Homo sapiens: one gene and its partners. The protein of the gene in region 1 purifies or fractionates together with the protein of each later gene. This does not show direct contact. Each region holds a gene or a part of one and is shown on either strand. Other genes may lie near its edges.

Region 1 (3,500 bases):
ATGGCAAGACCCCATCTCTACAAAAAAATTTTAAAATAGCTGGGCACGGGGCTGGGCACAGTGGCTCATGCCTGTAATCCCAGCACTTTGGGAGACGAAGGCAGGTAGATCATGAGGTCAGGAGTTCAAGACCAGCCTGGCCAAGATGGTGAAACCCCATCTCTACTAAAAATATAAAAATTAGCCAGGCATGGTGGCGGGTGCCTGTAATCCCAGCTACTCGGGAGGCTGAGGCAGAAAATTGCTTGAACCCAGGAGGTGGAAACTGCAGTGAGCTGAGATCACGCCGCTGCACTCCAGCCTGGGCGACAGCGAGACTCTGACTCGGGGGTGGGGAAAGAAAAAGAAAAAAAAAAATATCTAGGCACAGTGGCACATGCCTGTAGTCCCAGCTACTGGGGAGGCTGAAGCAGAAGGATCACTTGAGCCCACGAGATGAAGACAACTGTACCACTGCTCTCCAGCCCAGATGACAGTGAGACCCGGTTTCAAAAACAAAAGAATTCTAGGCCGAAAAGCCTTTTTAACTGATTTCTGGAGTCATCAGTTGTTCCATTGTCTCCTAGCTGTTCATGTTTGTTTGCTCTTTGTATTCCCAAGTATTTACAATAACCTAGAGTTTTAGAAGCCCCTCTTTCTTTATCCTCAGGGTTCTGACACTTGACAATGATAAGCTTTGCTGTGGGGTCTTTCTCAGTCATTGTCAGGGCCGCTTTCAATCTAGAAGATAATGGCCTCATTGCCAAGAAACTATCTTGCATTTTTGTTTTTTGTTTTGTTTTGTTTTGTTTTGTTTGAGACAAGGTCTGTTTCTGTCTCCCAGGATGGAGTGCAGTGGTACAATCCAGGCTCGTTGCACCCTCTGCCTTCCAGGCTCAAGCCATCCCCAACCTCAGCCTCCCACGTAGCTGGGGCCATAAGTACACAACTCCATGCCTGGCTAATTTTCATAGTGTTTGTAGACACGGGAAGTGGGGGATGGTGTCTCCCTATGTTGCCAAGGCTGGTCTCAAACTCGTGAGCTCAAGTCATCTGCCTGCCTTGGTCTCCCAAAGTGTTGGGATTACAGGCATGAGCCACCATGCCTGGTGCCAAGAAACTATCTTGCATTCTATGTTCATTTCCTCCTTTCAGTTTTCTATTCTTTCTGGAATTCCTACTCATCCTATATTGGGCTTCTAGACTTGTTCCTACATTAGGAGGAGAGGAAAGATAAAAAAACTATCTCTATTTTGCTTTTGGAATATCTCCTTGAGACAATAGTAGAATCTAAGCCTTCTTTTGAAGTTTTTTTTCTATTTTTTAATTTTAAGAACTTTCTTATTCTGTTCCCTTTGTTATCCTTTTTCTAGTATCCTGTTCCTTTTTCATGCAGACAATGCTCTTTTGTATCTCACTGAGGACATTAACATTCTCTTCCCTTTAAGACCTTTTCTCCCATGTGTGGGGGCTTTCCTCAGATGGCTGGTGACCCAGGGGTCTGATCCCACTGAAGCACTAAGGTTGACAGGAAGCCTTCTGTGGGGCCAGCGCCATCACTAACTTTCCCTCTGCAGGGTGCCTGGGGGTCTGGCAGGCAGGAGCTGTAGGACACTTCTCTGGGGGCATTCAACCTCCCTCAGCAGGGACTCCCCACCTCCTGCCTGGCCAGGGAACTGACTGCTGGGCCCATTGCTCATTCGGGATGCCCAGTTTCAGGCTGGTGCCTCACCCTGGCCTGTCTCTAGTATCCCATGCTGAAGCTTCCCTGGGTCAGGTGCTCCTGGAATTAAACATGAGGTCTCCTTCAATTGTTGGCAAGAGCCATCATCTGGCCAAGTGGGCCCTGAAGTCTCTAGCTGACACTCCCTAGAGGTTTTCAACCCTCCCCCCTTGTTCCTGTCCCCCGATCACTCCCACCTCTTGCCTTTCCTGGTACCTGAACAGATGGTCTTCCTTCTCACCAGGATGCCCTGTTCTGGCACAGAGATTTCTGAAGCTTCCCTCAGCAGGTTGCCACCCTCCCTCCATGTCCATCTTCCAAAATCTGATCACATCTTTGTCTTTTCCTCTATTACTTTCTTTGTCTATGGTGTTTTCTTTTTTGTGTAAGCCCTTTCCTGTTATTTCAATAGAGTTTAAGGGGGGAGCAGAGGTAAAAGCAGGCTTAACTACAAGTACCTCCATCTGTAATATTTAAATTATTTTTCTCCTTTATTCTTCCCAACTTGTGATTATGAAAAGGTTGAAGCTGCCGGGTACAGTGGCTCACGCCTGTAATCCCAGCATTTTGGGAGGCCAAGGCGGGCAGATCACCTGAGGTCGGGAGTTCGAGACCAGCCTGACCAACACAGAGAAACCTCGTCTCTACTAAAAATACAAAATTAGCCAGGCGTGATGGTGCATGCCTGTAATCCCAGCTACTGGGAAAGGCTGAGGCAGGAGAATCGCTTGAACCCGGGAGGCAGAGGTTGTAGTGAGCCAAGATCACACCATTGCACTCCAGCCTGGACAACAAGAGCAAAAGTCTGTCTCAAAAAAAAAAAAAAAAAAAAAGATAAGAAAAAAAAAAGGTTGAAACAAACAGAAAAGTTGAAAAGTTGAAAGAATAGTACAATCAATACCCATATGCTTTGTAAATGGGTAATGAGACTCGCCTGTAAGCAGATCAGAGAAATTATAGAATTAGGATCTCTCCAACTTGGTGATGAAAGCGTGAGATTTTCAGGCCTTGTCGTAAGACTGGACAGGCTACTTTGTCTACGGAGTAGCCATTCTTGTATTCCTTTACTTTCTTAAGAAATGTGCTTTCACTTAAAAAAAAGACTAGACGATGCTCCGTGCCCTGCTGCCTCACAAAGCCTCTGCGTGTCGGTTTATCAAAGATCCCACGACCAGGAGGGGCCCTGTGGCTTCGGGGCCTGTAGCCTCCCAGCCAGGAGCAGCCTGGGTCTCAGTTGTGGCTCCCTCAGCAGGTTCTCAGCCCCCCAACCAAAAGGCCTTGGCACTTCACATGAAAGCTGCCGCTTACCCTACACACACTGCCACCGGGAGGCAGCTGTTGACTCGTTCGTTCCCCTTTGGGCCCTGCTCTGGGAACAGTCCCTTCTAGGCAGTTAACCTGTGAGTCATCCAGCTTATAGTTCCTCATAAAGAAAGAAACTAGCCCTAACTTCCACAACAGTCTAAGCCGCTCCTCCACTGGCTCTCCTCAGCTGAAACCACTCAGTCTATTTTACTGAAATATTCCTTGTTTGTAGAGCTTCAGGCTCCTCCCTAGTTCGGAGAAAGCAATTCTATCCACTTTAAGCCTTTAGCTTTTAGTGCTCAAAGACATCTGAGGGCCGGGTGCAGTGGCTCACGCCTGTAATCCCAGCACTTGGGGAGGCTGAGGCGGGTGGATCACGAGGTCAGGATATCGAGACCATCCTGGCCAACAAGGTGAAACCCCGTCTCTACTAAAAATACAAAAAACTAGCCGGGCGTGGTGGTGGGCGCCTGTGGTCCCAGCTACTCGGGAG
Region 2 (3,500 bases), on another chromosome or scaffold:
ACTGAATGTGGTTTCTCTCTCACGCCTTTGTTTACCCACTCTCTCTAGGGTGGGGAGAAGCTAAGTTTTACAGCCTTTAGCAGGACCACCCAAGGCACTACTGTCTTTCTGTAGAAGCTTAGAATTGTGGCACTGCTGGGTTCCCAGGCACTAGGCAGGGTACCACAAAAAAAAGCCCCAATCAGCTCAGAGGCTGTCCATTCAACCCACACCTCCCAGTCCCACAATGGGAGTTTCCACCCACCTGTAGGCAGAAATTTGAGCCCTGCCTGGTGTCTGAAGTTCCCTTTCCATCTCCTCCTTTCTAGTGTTTAGGTAGGTAATCAGCAAATCCAGTCTATTAATTCGGAAGAGCAGCTCCTTCAGGAAGGACAGATTGCTTTCCTCCAACATTCTCTTTTCCTGGAGTCTCTGGAATAACATCAAGGCATCCTTGATGGGTTCTTGCTTCCTTTGCGGAATGTAGTCCAGGCTCAGGAACTTGAGGGAGGCCAGATCTTCACTGTCCAGTTGTTCCCCAATATCATAAAGATTTCTGCTGAAGTCCATCTTTTTAAAAGGCAGGAGAATATAATCTAAGTCAAAATAAATGGTATGTTCAGATAAGGAAGAAAAGTACCATTTGCTGGCTTGTTCATCAAAGGCTACTGCAACTACTAGGTACTGGTCATTGTGCTGTCAGCACAGGAGAGAAAAAAAGAACACCAGACAAGTTCCCTCTTACTGTTTAGGAAGGTAGACATACAAACAAGCCAATGGGCTGGGCGCGGTGGCTCACGCCTCTAATCCCAACACTTTGGGAGGCCAAGGCAGGCGGATCACGAGGTCAGGAGTTTGAGACCAGCCTGACTAACATGGTGAAACCCCGTCTCTACTAAAAGTGCAAAAATTAGCCAGGTGTGGAGGCACGTGCCTGTAATCCCAGCTACTCAGGAGGCTGGGGCAGGAGAATCGCTTGAACCCAGGAGGTGGAGGTTGCAGTGAGCGGAGATTGCACCACTGCACTCCAGCCTGGGTGACAGGGCAAGACTCCGTCTCACAAAAAAAAAAAAAACACAAAAAACAAAAAAAACAAGCCAATGGTTAGAGGGTTGTGACCAGAGTGTGGTAGGGATGTAGAGGAAGAAACCTTAACTTAGCCTGGGAGAAGGGCTTCCTATGGGGAAGGGATTTTGGGGAGAATGCGAGAAAGCACAATTCTTACAGGAAACAATTAATGTAAAAGATGGAGGTAAGAACTTTCAAGTCCATTCAGGCAGGCACAAGGAGCTCAATAAAGTAACTACAAAGTGTCTGGGATGGAGAGTGATGGGACAAAGGGATGAAGCTCTAGCCAGGTACCATGTCACAAAGGGGCCGCATTACCATGGGGCGAGGGGTTTAGGCTTTGTCCTGGAGGTGATGAGGAGCTAAGAAAGGACTGTAAAAATGAGAATGACATTATCCAACTTGGAATTAACATTCAAAGTGCAAAGGACAGACTGGAAGACTTAGAAGTAGGGGACGTACTAGGACCTATTAGGACCAACCTCCCATTCAACCCCACCATCAATCCCCAAAGTCCATTATATCCCTCTGTATGTCTTTGCATCCTCATAGCTTAGCTCCCACTTTTAAGTGAGAACATACGGTATTTAGTTTTCGTTTTTTTTTTTTCTTTTGAGACCCAGTCTTGCTCTGTCACCCAAGCTGGAGTGCAGTGTCGCGATCTCGGCTCACTGCAACCTCCGCCTCCCAGGTTCAAGCAATCCTCCTGCCTCGGCCTCCTAGTAGTTGGGATTACAGGGACACACCACCACACCCAGCTAATTACCTAGAATAATGGCCTCCAGCTCCAAGATTAAATATTTTTAAAGTGACCTAAAGATTTTGAGTTTTTAAGTGACCCAAAACTTTTAGTTTTCAAAGTCTTACTTTCAAAAATATCCTTTCCTTCCATTCCCTGAAAGAAAATTTTTAAAAATCTTTTCCCCCTCCTGATTACAGCAGCAGTGGTTTTTTTGTGTGGAAATGGAAACCACAGAGGCTCTGGGGACTCATCCCCTACTCCCACCCCACTGCGATCATGTTTGTTCCCTGCAGGGAGCTGGCCCCCAGCCCTACCGGCGTCACCCTCCTGATGACAAACTACCCTCTCACTAGAATGGAAGCTCTGTGAGGGCAGAAACTTTTGCTGGTTTATTTTTTATTCTTATTTTTATTTTTGAGACAGGGTCTCACTCTGTCACCCAGGCTGGAGTGCAGGGCGCAATCTTGGCTCATTGCAACCTCCACCTCCCAGGCTAGAGCCATCCTCCCACCTCAGCCTGCTGAGTAGCTGAGACTACAGGAGCAAACTACCACACCAGGCTATTACTGGCTACTGTCTCAGGCTGCTGGCATGATAATTGTCTGGGCTTTCCTGAATGAATAGTAATAGCTATCTTAGACATGTTCAGTGTAGAAATAATCAGGTCTATTGCAAGTTGGCCAGAATTTCCAATAGATACTGCTAGCACGTGTCAATCGTTGCTCTAGGCCCTGGGAATGCAGTAAAATAAACCAACGTGGCCCAGGAGTTCAGGTCTACCCTGGGCAAGACCCCAGGTGGCAAGACCCCAGGTAGCAAGACCCCAACTCTTAAAAAAAAAAAGCAAAACCAAAACCAAAACAAAACAAAAAAACAGGTGGGTAATTTAGCCATCTCTGTCAAAATATAAAATTCACATAAACTGGCCCACAATTTAACTTCCAAGAGTTTTTCCTACATTCACTTAAACAAGTATACTCAAAACCATATATAAGGCTATTCATGGTAGCATTCCTTGAAATAACGAAAGAGCAGAAACAACTGTTTATCAGCATTAGAAGATTTAGGCAAGCTATTAATCATATTCCAGGGAACTCTATTTGGCTACTAGAAAGAATAGGAAGATCAATGTGGTTGAGCCTGCGTGATCTACATAATGTATTGATCAGTACATATTTTGTGTATTCACAGAAGAGCTCTGACAAAAAATGCACAGGAAGTTCCTTCAGTAATGTTAAAGAAAAGCAGAATTACACACAGATGTGGGCGTGCAGTGTGAGAAGGCTGATGGGTGGAGGTGACAGTGAGAGCTGCTTTATTTCCCATACCTTGCTGCACAGTTTGTACTGTTTGAATTTTTACCATGTACATGTATGACTTATTCTAAAACATATACCTAGTTAAAATCTTTATTTAAAGATCCATTCTTATTCACATGCTGGAAAAGATCTAAACTAGATCTAACCCTGTTTAGTGCCATTAGGTCAACTGTCTTTACAATTTTTAATGCATTCTAACCTCTGTTAAAGTCTCATCTTACAGAATAAAACCAACCAAAGAATCAAATGAAAGCAGGACTTCCTTTCCCCCATCCCTCAATTATTTTTTTCTGAGGATAACAATGCTTAGTGTATTCATTTTAGACAATACAGAAAAGATAAAAAGGAAAATTAAAATTATGTATAATTCCACCATCCAAATATAAATGCCC
Region 3 (4,123 bases), on another chromosome or scaffold:
CACAAACATCTCTGCACCCCCATAGCCTCTGGCCCCTCTTCACACCCAAGCAGCAACCCCTACTCCACCGAAACCTCCCCTACCATCTTTTCAGCAGATCAAGCAAGAGTCTTACAGGCTATCAGTTAGGGACCCCAAGGAGGGACCCAGGAAAGAGGAGAGGAGCAATGAGAGGAGGCAGTCAGAGTGTCGAGGAGGGGAGAAGAGGCACAGACTGGCTGACTTACACAGCAAGAGAGAGAGAGAGAGAGACAGAAAGATGGAAAGGCTCAACGAGGAGGGTGGGGGCAGACGGGCAGAAAAACAAAGAGAGAGTGAAACAGAGACACTGAAAGAGAAACTGACAGGAAGAGGTCAGAGAGATAGTGACAGGCAAGAAGGAAGACAGATAAGGGGAGGGAGACAGACAGATAAGGACAGAGAGCTACAGAAAGCGAGATAGACAAGAAAGAAAGAAGAATGAGTAGGCATTCGGGGCTAGGGGACAGCTGACGCCCTGGGGCCTGCCTAGCTGCTGGATCCGACATACCAGGGAGTTCCTGAGAACTCGGCTGCCCTGTAGTGACATGTTAGTGTGCCCCCCCCACCCCAACAATACACATGCCAGGGGCCCCTGACTCACTGACGGTTCTCAGAACTCTCCCCCTCTACCCTCTAACTTTCCCTAACTTATAGGAACCAGGACCAGCCTAAGTGACCCCTCCCTTCCTCCTTTCCTCCCTTCCCAGCCTTGGCCCCACCAGGACAGCCAGGATCAGGTCCTAAGTTTCCCTGTGGACTTAGTAGAGGCCTATAAAGTAACCTCCACTGACTCCGAGGGAGGCCAAGTCCCTATTCTACCCACCCCCCAGCCCCTGCCCAGAGGGTTTCAAGCTGTAGGGACCCAGGGAGGGGGTGAGAATGCAGTGGGCTGGCAGGGTGTGTGGGAGCTGTCAGGCCAGCGTGCTCAAAGCTGCCTCAAAGCTGCCTCATTCGTTTGGATTCATAATCAATCTGTCTATTCGAGTCCATTATCTCCTCGTTAGCTCTGCGGGTGAGTGAGGAGGGAGGGGGCTGTGCAGGCAGTGGGGAGGGGGATGTCAGGCTGCAGCCCCACCCAGGGGGACATCTCAGCTCACCACCCTACATGCTTGCTAGTCCCCAGTTCTGGCCTGTCCACTCCCCCTACCACTCCCATCCCTACCCTGCTGGACCCACTTGGGGCTTGGAAAGAGTTGGGAAACACGAGCCCTGATGGGGAGCACTCAGGAGTCTGGACCCCAATCTGAAGGCCCAGGGTGATGAGAGAACTGGACTAGGACTGGCAACCTGTCTCTCATGCCCCCTCCCATCATGCAGAGACCTAGGCCTAGACCAAGACAAGGCCATCTCCTCTACTCCTGGTCTCCCTAGAGCTATTAGAGAGAGAGATTGAGTGCCTTCCCGTTAATTACCATGAGATACCCAAGGAACTCAGTGCCAATTACTGCAAGCTGCTCAAGTAACTTCCAGACAGTGATGATCCTCACCTCGGATACCTTCCAGCCCATCACAGCACAAGGCCAAGGTTCCTTGTCCACCCTCGAAACCCCAGGCCACAGGAGGAGGATTTTCTAGCAGTTCTCCCCTCTTCTAGATGTCTTGCTGGCCATGATAGCCATATGTAATATTCAAGTATTTTCCAGCCATCACCATATGATGCCTGAGTACCTCCAGGCCAGTCATTACCGCATACTCCCATAGGTTTCACCAGCTGCTAAAAAGTACTTGAGTATTTTGTAACCAATTCCTGCAGAATGTCAGAGTCCTGCAGAATGCTGAAGATTCCTCCCAGCTTCGTGTACCAAAGGGAGGAGGGTCTCTCAGCAAGGGCCCTGACTCCCCGCCCCAGGTAGAGAGACAAGGTTGGAGAGGGAGATGGGAGTGGGGAGAGAAAATCCAGGAGGGGGTCCCATTTCCCAGATCCAAATCAACGGGTTCTGGGGGAAGGAATGGTAAAAATGGAAAGAGGAGAGCTCAACCACTCAGCTCCTCACCGCCTCCCACCAATGCCAGCCAGCTCAATCCCCAATTCCAGAAGAAAAGCTAGGGTTGCCTCCTCATAACAAGAAAGTGGGCGGGGGCTGGCTTGCCCCTAGAAAAGGAAAAAGGCAGTAAGGGTGACAAACTGGGGACTTCTCTGCTGGTAACCATCCTTCTCTGTAGGACAGAGCAGGGGCTTCTGGCTGAGCTCCAGAAAGCGCCTTCTAGACGGCTAGGCTCTCTCAGACCTGGTCCACGGAGATTTCCCCCTTCGATCTCCCTGAAGCCGGCGGCCCAGCTGCCCTGAACACTAGGGGACATCCAGGCACTGACCATAAAGCTTGCTAGGGCAGCGGCGGCTGCGGAGGAACGCCCGGGCAGCGCCGAAGGCTGCGTGGTGCCAGCCTTCCGCCGTGCTCGTCCTGCCTGACCAGCAAACAAGCAGCGAGTCCGCGCCCTCGGGGCACTGCAATGCCTGCCTGTCCCCGCGCCCCCCCACCGCCCGCCGGACACTCACAGCTCAGTCAGGTTCTCTGCGCCGGGCAGGTGGTGGAGGCTATCCAGGGCCCCATCCCGGGTGCATCGCAGTCCCGAGGAGCCGTGGGGGCAGCAGGCATCGGGGCAGGGTGCGGCGCCCGCAGATGCCAGTATCAGCCAAGCCAGCAGGCTGCCCGGCCCCGCAGCCCAGCTGTGCCAGCCAAGCTGCCCGCGCCGTCCGCCTCGCAGCATCGCGGCGGCGCCCGCCTCGCTCAGGCGGGGCAGCCGTCTGTGCGCTCCCAGCTGCAGCTGCCAGGCCTCCCCCGACATGTGCGCTGGGCGGTGTTAAAGACCCAGCCGCCAGGAAAGGGCGGAGCCAGCGGCCCCCGCCCGGCCCCGCCTTGCCCCTCTTCTCCACCCGCTTCCTACTCTCTGACGCCCCCCCCTCTGCCCCCTCCCCTGTTAGGGGCCCCCAGCGTCAGCCTTCTCCCCGAGGATCCGCCTCAGCTCCGGCAGACGCTGAGGGGCCGCAGCAGAACGCCTCGGAGGTGTCTGCTGAGGCCGGAGGTGGGAAGCTGATACGTTATTTCTCTCAGCTTAAAGCAGCTGCATTTTTACATTTGGGGAGGAGGGAAGATGACTGCGTTGAGGAAAGGTTGCTGTCCAGGTCATCCTAGCCAGCCCCAGGCTCAGCGCTCCATCCTCGCGGCGCGCGTGCCTAGGGGAGTGAGCATGTCACTTGGAGTAAGTTAGGTAGAACATTCTCCGAACTCTAGGAAGAAAACGAAAAGGACTACCAAAGGATCAATCGCAGAACCTGGGGAGGAAGACACAGACGGGGCAGAGAAAGGGAAGGGGTCGCCTAATCCGGCCGAAGGGAGTCCGGAGAGCCAAGACCGCGCCTCCAAGAGAAGCCACAGGGTGGCGCGAGAAGCCCGCGCGCAAAGGCGCGAGCTCCCCGCCCGCGCTGGGTGCCTGGGGGTGCGATCTGCAGCCCCCAGTGAGCAACGCCTCAGGTCTCAGCTTCAGTCCCTGACCCCGGCCAGCCAGCGCCGGCCCCGGGGCAGGATAGGGCAAGGCAGGGCAGGGCTGACATCGATCGCCTCCCTGACAAGAGCATCGATTTATTCGTGAAGAAATTAATAGATCTTCTCTTAGCTCCTCGGACGCAGGAGCCGCCCGCGGGTGGAGCTGAGGACCGCGCACCTTGGAGGCCGAGCACCTGGAAAGCCCCGGGATCCCCAGCACCCAGGGCAGCAGAAGGCTGGTCCCAACCCCTCCCACCGCGCAAGCCTCCGTGGCTGCACTAACCCATCCGTCTCAAGCTGGGGAGAGCGAAGGGAAGAGGGGTGTCTCTTGGCGGGGAGACAGGCAAGGCCCCAGGGAGCGGGGGAAGGACGACCTCCTAGAGGCTCACGGTTCTCTCCGCCAAGGCCCCAGCACGGATGGCCCCCCAAGTCCCCGAGACAGGGACACACAGACCGACCGAGCAGCCTGAGCTCAAGAAGGTGACCAGACGGAGGCAGAGCCCTACACAGTGATCGCCTTCTTCCTCGGGATCTTGGTCAGAACCAAGGGACTAGGCGGTGACGGAGCCTGGCGCTAAGGGGTCTCCAAAGAGGACAAGGAGGCCTCCTAGGAGGCT
Region 4 (3,500 bases), on another chromosome or scaffold:
GCCTCCCAAGTAGCTGGGACTACAGGCCCACACCACCATGCCCAGCTATTATTTATTTATTTATTTATTTATTTATTTATTTGAGACAGAGTGTCACTCTGTTGCCCAGGCTGGAGTTCAGTGGCGTGATCTCGGCTCCCTGCAACCTCCACCTCCTGGGTTCAAGCAGTTCTCCTGTCTCAGCTACCTGAACAGCTGGGACTTACAGGCGTGCACCACCACGCCTGGATAATTTTTGTATTTTTAGTAGAGATGGGGTTTCTCCATGTTGCCCAGGCTGGTCTCAAACTCCTGGCCTCAAGTGATCCTCCCACCACGGCCTCCCAAAGTGCTGGCATTACAGGGATGAATCACCACACCCGGCTGCTAATTTTTAATTTTTTTGTAGAGAGGGGGGTCTTGCTATGTTCCCCAGGCTAGTCTCAAACTCCTGGCCTCAAGCAGTCCTCCCACCCTCCGCCTCCCAAAGTTCTAGGATTATAGGTGTGAGCCATTGTGCCCAGCCACACGTCTAAAGAATTCTAAGCGGACATTTTCCTAGTAGAAAGATCTCTATGACACAAACCTTGACTGGTTCCTAATCCCTCCTCCCTGTCTGCCCCCATTCCCCTACCCACAAGAGCAATGAAAGACATTTTGGGGAGAACTGGGGATATTTTAATAGGGAGTGGATATTAGATATGATGGAATAATTGTTTTTCTCAGATGTGATGATAGCATTGTAGTTCTGTCATTGTGTTTTGGAGGTACATGCTGAAGGATTTACGGGAGAAGTATCATTATGTCCAAACTCTACTTTCTTTTTTTTTTTTTTTTCCTGAGACAGAGTCTCGCTCTGTCACCCAGGCCGGAGTGCAGTGGGGTGATCTCGGCTCGCTGCAACCTCTGCCTCCCGGGTTCAAGTGATTCTCCTGTCTCAGCCTCCCGATTAGCTGGGACTACAGGCGTGCGCCACCACAACCAGCTAATTTTTTTGTATTTTTAATAGAGATGGGGTTTCACCATTTGGCCAGGATGGTCTCGATCTCCTGACCTCGTGATCTGCCCGCCTTGGCCTGCTTTGGTCTCCCAAAGTGGTGGGATTATAGGCGTGAGCCACTGCCCCCAGCCCAAAACTCTACTTTCAAATGGTTCAGTAGAAATTAAAAAGCAAATATAGGGCCGGGTGTGGTGGTTCACACCTGTAATCCTAGCACTGTAGGAGGCCAAGGCTCACGGATCACATGAGGCCAGAAGCTCAAGACCAGCGTGGACAACATGATGAAACCCTGTCTCTACTAAAACTACAACATTTAGCAGGGTAACTACAACATTTAGCAGGGTGTGGTGGTGCAGGGCTGTAGTCCCAGCTATACAGGTGGCTGAAGCAAGGTAATTGCTCGAGCGCAGGAGGTGGAGGCTGAAGTGAGCCGAGATCGCGCCACTGCCCTCCAGCTGACATGAGAGAACAAGGCCCTGTCTGAAAAAAAAAAGAAAAAAAGAAATTAAAAAGCAAATATATATAGAGAAAAACTTTTAATGGTAAAATGTTCATTTTTAAAATCTAGATGCAGGGCAGAAAAGTCTTGTCATGTTTAAACTCCTCTGGGTTTGAAGTTTCTGGAAATGAAAGGTGTGGGAACAGGTCTCTGGAGCAGCAGTGTGGAAGACGGGGTACTGGGGCTGGATGGAGTGTGGTGGTGGGGAGGGGAGTCAGGGAGCTGCTGCTTTAAGGCAGGAGTCTTCTTGGCATGGGTCTGTCAACCTCTTCTCTCCCCCGGGTCTGTGCTTCCAAATGCTGGTGCTGTTTGCACACTTGTGTCTTTGGCCTTCACTGGTTCTGCTTAGAATCTCCCTTCCATGGGTATCTACCTGACCATCTGCTCCTCTTCTTTCCAGTCTTCCACTCAACAGGTACTTCGTTAGAGCAGGCCCCCAGGCTGCCCTTACCCATGCCACAACAGCTACCTACTTCCTTGTGTCATCATTGAAGAGCTTGTCTGTTTGAGTTGTGATCGTGTTTGTCTGTCTGCCCTCACCAGCAAACTGAGCTCCCGTGAAGTCAGGGCCAGGTTCATCTGTGCATCGTCAGTGGCTGACAGGTGTAGTGCACAGTCTGTAAATAACAGTGATCATATTGCCGGGCGCGGTGGCTCACGCCTGTAATCCCAGAACTTTGGGAGGCCAAGGTGGGCGAATCACGAGGTCAGGAGATCGAGACCATCCTGGCTAACATGGTGAAACCCTGTCTCTACTAAAAATACAAAAAATTAGCCGGGCGTGGTGGTGGGCGCCTGTAGTCCCAGCTACTCAGGAGGCTGAGGCAGGAGAATGGCGTGAACCCGGGAGGCGGAACTTGCAGTGAGCCGAGATCCCACCACTGCACTCCAGCCTGGGCGACGGAGCGAGACTCTGTCTCAAAAAAAAAAAAAAAAAAAAGATCATATGAATGAAGCACGGTGTGCTCCTGCTGCCTCATCCTGTGGTCTCAGCGTTAAGTCCTTTCCCTTCTTCAGTTTCCTCTTCCCCGCCTGATCAGCACTCACAAGCTTCTTCTGAATGCACTCCTTTCTCTTCATCCCCACTGCCATCTTAACCCCAGACCATCTAGTGAGTATTTATTGAGTGCCTTCTGCATACCTGGTGCTGCTGGGCATGGCAGCCAGGGTGCCCAGGAAGCATGTTCCTGGCCTTTGTTGCTGCAGCCATATACCACGCTCCTGCCAGGCTGCTTTTGACACTTAGATTTTTTTTTTTTTTTTTGAAACGGAGTCTTGCACTCTTGCCCAGGCTGGAGAGCAGTGGCGTGATCTTGGCTCACTGCAACGTCCGCCTCCCAGGTTCAAGTGATTCTCCTGCCTCAGCCTCCCGAGTAGCTGGGACTACAGGCGTCCACCACCACACCTGGCCATTTTTTTGGTATTTTTTAGTAGAGACAGGGTTTGGCCATGTTGCCCAGGCTGGTCTTGAATTCCTGACCCCAGATGATCCGCCCACCTCGGCCTCTCAAAGTGCTGGGATTACAGGCATGAGGCACTGCGCTTGTCCGACACTTATATTTTTTTTGAAAACTTGACAGCATCTCACCCTACACAGAATAAAGTCGCCCTCGCCTCGCCCTCACGGTCCTCCCACATGCTCTTCTGCCTTGCTAAACAGCTTGCCATTCCAGACATATGCCATTCAGTGTCATGACTCCATGTCCCTGTACATGTTGTTCCCATTGACTGGAATTAGCACCTGCCTTCTCCACCTGTCTTGCTTGCCCTCCAAAACAGAGCCAGAGTGCCCCTACTGGAGTCCCTCCTGCACCTCCCAGGCCAAGCTGATGGTGGGTTCACTTGAGCTCTTGCAGTGTATGTCTAAGTTTACAGCATCTGTGGCCACTCTGGCTGTTTACTGATAGGTTTTTCCTGTGAGACTGAATAGGCTTGGCATCTGGTTTATCTTTGTATCCATAGAGCCCGGCATAGAATGCTGACTTGATTTCAAGTCTAGTGTTTTGTATAGTGCACCCTTCC

The links.
Region 2: the proteins of SQSTM1 (region 1) and CASP8 purify together in Homo sapiens (affinity purification with western blotting; 5 studies listed by BioGRID and IntAct, with this or other methods). This does not show direct contact.
Region 3: the proteins of SQSTM1 (region 1) and NTRK1 purify together in Homo sapiens (affinity purification with western blotting; 6 studies listed by BioGRID and IntAct, with this or other methods). This does not show direct contact.
Region 4: the proteins of SQSTM1 (region 1) and NIPSNAP2 purify together in Homo sapiens (affinity purification with mass spectrometry; 4 studies listed by BioGRID and IntAct, with this or other methods). This does not show direct contact.

The regions. Positions count from the first base shown.
Region 1 is NC_000005.10:179,827,405-179,830,904, reverse strand, and holds part of SQSTM1 (sequestosome-1), read right to left. Parts: intron 1-3,500. UniProt on the Homo sapiens protein: Molecular adapter required for selective macroautophagy (aggrephagy) by acting as a bridge between polyubiquitinated proteins and autophagosomes.
Region 2 is NC_000002.12:201,263,536-201,267,035, reverse strand, and holds part of CASP8 (caspase-8 isoform 2 precursor), read right to left. Parts: intron 576-3,500; coding exon of another isoform or gene 550-575; coding exon 245-549; intron 1-244. UniProt on the Homo sapiens protein: Thiol protease that plays a key role in programmed cell death by acting as a molecular switch for apoptosis, necroptosis and pyroptosis, and is required to prevent tissue damage during embryonic development and adulthood.
Region 3 is NC_000001.11:156,859,542-156,863,664, reverse strand, and holds the start of NTRK1 (high affinity nerve growth factor receptor isoform 2 precursor), read right to left. Parts: upstream 2,801-4,123; 5' UTR 2,731-2,800; coding exon 2,519-2,730; intron 1-2,518. UniProt on the Homo sapiens protein: Receptor tyrosine kinase involved in the development and the maturation of the central and peripheral nervous systems through regulation of proliferation, differentiation and survival of sympathetic and nervous neurons.
Region 4 is NC_000007.14:55,967,585-55,971,084, forward strand, and holds part of NIPSNAP2 (protein NipSnap homolog 2), read left to right. Parts: intron 1-3,500. UniProt on the Homo sapiens protein: Protein involved in mitophagy by facilitating recruitment of the autophagy machinery required for clearance of damaged mitochondria.